Linked DNA regions of Homo sapiens: region 1 is linked to region 2. Evidence: fine-mapped expression QTL. Tissue or cell type: spinal cord. Region 2 holds a variant in brackets; the other region holds the start of a gene. All regions are shown on one strand. Distances are from middle to middle.

Region 1 (2,916 bases), 24 kb after region 2:
GGACTAAGAGCTGTGGCATTTTTCTCTGAATCCCATGTTCTTTTCAGAGGGATTACATTACTTCTACAAAATAACACTGTCTTAGTCAATTTAGTGTTGCTATAACAGAGTATCTGAGACTGGGTCGTTTAGAAAGAAATGAGGTCTATTGAGCTCATGGTTCTGCAGGTGGGAAATTTCAAGGGCATGGCGCTGGCTTCTGGCCAGGGCTTTCCTGCTGTGTCATAACATAACAGAAGGTCAAAACTGGGGTAGGCATGTGTGAAAAGGAAGGGACCAAGGAGGGTGACATGTTTTATACCAACCTACTCTTGAGGGAACTAATCCATCTCTGCAAGAACTAATCCAGTCTTGCAAGAGTAAGAACTCACTCACTATCCTGAGAACGGCACCAATTTATCGTGAGGAATCCACCCCTATGACCCAAACACCTCCCACTGGGCCCCACTTCCCAACACTGTCTCTTGCAATGAAACTTCCACATGGGTTTTGGTGAGGACAAGGCACATCTAAGTTGTAGAAAATACCCATAAAAAGCTTGAGAAAGCACATGGATGGATATACATGACTTTGTTTCACCATCTTTGCCCTTTTCTATTGATACAACGATGCTCTTGAGTCTAGAAAAAAGTGCTTCAGGCTGAACGGGTTTCAGATGGCTGTCCACTGGATTTCTGGTTTTACCTTTTATCTCTAATGGGCTCACCCCGCACCTACCTTAAGGCCAGGTTCATCACTGCAAAACACAAATCCAATTCCAAAACACTGGGAAGCAATCAGATTGGATTGTTCTTTTCTTAGGAAAAGAAAGCAAAAACTTACCCCCCCATAAGGCACCACTGCCTAAAACCATCTGTAAGCATTTCTGTCATTTCCTTGGAGGCTTGAGACTCACCTGTGAGAGGGAAAGCATCAACCTCTCCCACATACCCTTAGTTGCCCTAAACGATTCACCCCTGTGTTCCACCTTTAGTAAAAGAAAAGCACGGTGATTACCAGAATTCAGTGCAGAGCCATCCCTTAACAAGCAATGGTTAAGAAACAAGGGAGGGAAGGAAGAAAGGAAGAAAGGAAGGAAGGAAGGAAGGAAGGTAGGTGGGGGGGGGGAGGGAGAGAGAGAAGGAAGAAAGGAAGGAGGGAAGGGAGGGAGGGAAGGAAGGAAAGAAGGAAATGGAAGGAAGGAAGGAGAGAGGGAGGAAGGAAGGAAGAAAGGAAGGAAGGAAGGAGGGAGGGAGTGATGAAGGAAGGAAGGAAGAAAGAAAGAGGGTGGGAGGGAGGGAGAGAATGAAGAAGGAAGGAAGGAAGGCAGGGAAGGAGGGAGGGAAAGAAGGAAATGGAAGGAAGAAGAGAGGGAGGAAGGAAGAAAAAAATGGAAGAAAGGAAGGAGAGAGGGAGGGAGGAAGGAAGGAAGGAAGAGAGGGAGGGAAGGAGGGAGGGAGGGAGGGAGGGAGGGATCAGAAATCATAGCCAGTGAAACCCAGAAAACCGTTAGGCAGGAATTAGGACAATACCTTACTCAGGTTTGCATTCCCAGCATTTAGCACCATATGCATCATGCATCAAAAATGTTGTTGGGTGAATGCTGAGCAACAGCCACACACTGAATAAACCAGGCAGGTTGACGTCACAGGGGAGGGCACAGTGTTCCTGGACTCTGAGTGGGTGGCTATTTTTCATGCCAAGTCATGACAGTAGCATTCAGTGTGGTGGGTAAACACAGTCTTATGAATCTCACTTTTAAAAAACTGGAAGTGCTATAGATAAAAGCTTTCATAATTTTGAGATAATAATGGTAAAAATTATCATTTTTGCTTACTATTTGTGATGGTTAATATTGAGTGTCAACTTGATTGGATTGAAGGATGCAATGTATTGCCCCGGGGTGTCTGTGAGGGTGTTGCCAAAGGAGATTAACACTTGAGTCACTGGACTGGGAGAGGCAGACCCACCCTCAATCTGGGTGGGCACCCAGCTGCCAGCTCAGCTGCCAGTGTGGCTAAAATAAAGCAGGCAGAGGAACGTGGAAGGACTAGACTGCCTGAGTCTTCTGACCTTCATCTTTCCCCTGTGTTGGATGCCTCCTGCCCTCAAACATCAGACTCCAGGTTCTTCAGCTTTTGGACTCTTGGACCTACCCCCCGAGTGGTTTGCCAGGGGCTCTCAGGCCTTCGGCTACAGACTGAGGGCTGCATTATCAGCTTTCCTACTTTTGAGGTTTTGGGACTTTACTGGCTTTCTTGCTCCTCAACTTGCAGATGGCCTGTTGTGGGACCTCACCTTGTGATCATGTGAGTCAATACTCCTTAATAAACTCCCTTTCATATATGCATCTATCCTATTAGTCCTGTCCTTCTAGAGAATGCTAATACAATATTTTTAATTTTTATATCCCACAATAAAACTCAGAAGTAGTTAAGTCAGGCTTAAATGCAAGAGAACGGTTTATATTAATTATTGGCCATAACCAACAAAAAATTTCAGAAAAGTCAGTATCATCATGCTGCCTTTATCCAGCACTGACTTTGTTAAGCCTTCCAGAATCTGTCATGTATGAGATTCAACCTGAAATACATACACGCAACAGGTGCATCTTAGGGCTTTGAGGCCAACTGCAACTCATAGTTGCCAAGAACCACCAGCCCTGAGAAACACCTGAAGAAGAAGATTGGTTTAGTGTTTGGGTCCTTCTATGACCTTGAAGAAAGCACTGGGGAAGACATGATTGTGCCTTCACTGAGTAGCCCCACCAGCCATCACCACTTCATTTCTTACCCACCTTTGTAGTATACTCATTCCTAATTAAGAAGGCTGAGGCAGAGCCAAGGGTTAAGTTAACGCAAGGCTGGTACCTTTCCTAGGCTTGCCAGTCATTTGCACACAGAGAAGACCATAGGAAACTGAAAGAAGAACAGAGAG
Region 2 (2,916 bases):
GCTGACTGCCTGATCCTAAAGGCTGAGAACAAGGACTTGGTTTCTGTAAGTTATATAAATGAGTTCCATTTTTCTAGTAGTAAAGATCACATGCTTTTTTATTTTTTTTGTCTTTTGGACACCTGTATTGGTTAGAGTTCTCCAGGAAAATAGAACTGATAGGATGTATATATGTGCATGTATGTGTGTGTGCATGTATGTGTATACATGTGCACACATGTTTTTGTGTGTGCTTGTATGTGTGCATGATGTGTATATGTGCGTGCATGTTCGTGTGTGTGCATGTGTGTGTGTGTGCACGTGTGTGTGTGCGTGCATGTAAGTAAATGTATTTATAAGGAATTGGCTCACATGATTATGGAGGCCAAGTTCAAGATCAGCAGTCGGCACGGTGGAGACCCAGGAGAGCCGATGTGTGGTTTCAATCTGAAGGCTGTCAGGCTTGAGACCCAAGAAGACCTGCTGTTTCTGTTTGAGTCCCAAAGCAGGAAAAATCTGTTGCCCCGGTTCAAGGGCAGAGACAGAGAATTCTTTCCTATTCAGCCTGTTGCTCTAGTCAGGCCTTCATCTGATTGGATGAGGAACACCCAGACTGGGAGGGCAATCACCTTACTCAGTCTACTGATTCAATGTTAATTTCATTGAAAATGCCCTTATGGACACACTCATATAATGTTTGACCAAATATGTGGGCACCCATGGCCCAGACAAGTTGATTTGTACGACAGACTATCACAGCGCCCATGCTCAAGTCAATGAGCCACACAGAGGCTGAGCTCTTTTTCCCATCTCCTTCTAGGACAAGAATTGTTGAAGCCGGGGTCAGGATGGGGGATGCTGAAGTGCTCATACACTCTAAACCAGAGGCTTCCTAGAGCCTAAGGGGTAGCTGAGAAGACAGCCAGGTAACTAGGACTGCCAGTGCTGACAGTGGGGGAGGAGGTCCCAGGCAATGCACTCTGAAGTCTTTCAGCCCATCTGCATTTTTGGAGAGGTCCCTAAATTTTTTTTTTACTGGGTCCAAACCCACCAACTTACCCCTGAATCCTGGTTCTCGCATTTCCATTCTTAGTCTCAGTCCTTGCACCCAGCACCTCTGTCTTCAGTCCTATAAACAGTGTCTTCTGCTCTCAGTTGGGGCAGGTGGATGGATTAACTCACTCACTCCTGGGCTGACAAA[G/T]GCTCTTTGAAAATCTCCCTTCCTCTCAGAAGCATTGCAGCTGAAACACTGATTCTTAAATGCCCAAAGCCTTCAAGTTTCAAAGGAGAAAAGTGTAATATTGAAAGATATTTGCTAAATTTAGATTTGAAAGAAGGGGGCTGGGCTTGGGCTACATTGTTTGACATTTGATCTGTGTCACTACAGTCTTTGACAGTGGTTAATTCAAATAAGAGAAGGTGTGTGTGTGTGTGTGTGTGTAAACACACTGGTGCGAACTCAAGTTTTCACTGATTCTTACGGTTTACTCAAGTCACTTGTCTTCCTATTTACATATTCAACTGTCTGTCTCATTTATCTTATTTATTAAAACAAAATTCACTGTGGCATTAAGGCCCACCTCTGGAAATATAGATCTCATTAAGAAATTCTCCCTCTTGTCAATTCTAACTTTCTGTATTGTACCAAAATACAAACCACTCTGATAGGTAGAAAGCTGCTATTAATCTTGCCAAGTTTGTCTTACATAATTGATAATAAAACCGAACATGGCTAAGTTTTAAAAATCATCTTCCTTTATTATTATTATTACTATTAATTTTAAAACCACGCCTAAAGAACAGCCAGCCCTCGGAAGTGAAAAAAGTTAATGAAATTTCTCATTTCAAAGATGCACCTGGGGCTTAGCATCTTGGAACTGCACTGAAAAGTGGGGAGAAATCAGAGCGATGCATGTTCCCCTAATGCCTGCAATAACATGAAATCTGCCTGATGCCTATGCCTCGTGGAGATAAAGACCCATTTTTTTTTATATTATTAGACACAATTATGAGAAGCCAGAGAAAGTGAAAAAAAAATACACATTTCTGTATTCAAATGGAAATAAGTGCTTCATTAGTAATAAAGGCTCTAGGTTATGTTACCATGTAACCTTTTGTTCAAACATGATGTTTGAAATTTGCATAAGTAGTCAGCTGTGTATATCTCAGGGCTATTGAAATGCTATGACTCACCAATCTAAGCAGCCTCATAAACAGTGTTTTTCTCCTTTTCTGGTGCCCTTGTTTTCACAGAAACACAGCTGCACGGCACTGACAGAGAACTCGCAGAGTAAAAAGGAACCCACAATAAACGAGCTGCTTTGCGCCATGTTCACAATTTCCTTGCAGGGTGGGAGCAGAGATGGTCCGAGTAAACTGACCCATTTGGAAGCCCACTTGGAAACTGGGTTCCTTTTTTTAAAAAAATAAATTTATTTCCATAGGTTTTTGGGGAACAGGTGGTATTTGGTTACATGAGTAAGTTCTTCAGTTGTAATTTGTGAGATTTTGTGCACCCATCACCCAAGCAGTATACACTGAACTCAGTGTGTAGTTTTTTATCCCTCACTCCCCTCCCACGCCTTCTCTCAGGTCCCCGAAGTTCCTTATATCATTCTTATGCCTTTGCATCCTCATAGCTTAGCTCCCACTTATGAGTGAGAACACATGATGTTTGGTTTTCCATTCCTGAGTTACTTCACTTAAAATAATAGTCTCCAGTTCCATCCAGGTTGCTGTGAATTCCATTAATTTGTTCTTTTTTATGGGCTCATTCTTAAATGAAATCTTGGCAACCATAGAACTTCTTGTTTTAAAGGAGGAGAAGGAGGCATGGGGAAAGGTTCAGAAGACTGCCTGGACTTCAATGGAACTTACATATAATTTTCTGCATTACGTATAAATCCATCAGAAACATATGGAATGCATTTTCATTAA

Evidence for each region.
Region 1: it holds the start of LINC00706, and the variant in region 2 is fine-mapped to the expression of LINC00706 in spinal cord (GTEx, PIP above 0.99).

The regions. Positions count from the first base shown.
Region 1 is chr10:6,777,600-6,780,515 of GRCh38, forward strand. LINC00706 (long intergenic non-protein coding RNA 706) reads right to left here and starts at 1,581. Exons shown (of 2, transcript NR_108074.1): 1 at 1,512-1,581. LINC00707 (long intergenic non-protein coding RNA 707) reads left to right here and starts at 1,999. Exons shown (of 5, transcript NR_038291.1): 1 at 1,999-2,288.
Region 2 is chr10:6,754,064-6,756,979 of GRCh38, forward strand. No RefSeq gene overlaps it. Among named protein-coding and RNA genes, the nearest start is that of LINP1, 18 kb to the left of the region's middle. The variant G/T (reference allele first, on the strand shown) is at 1,181.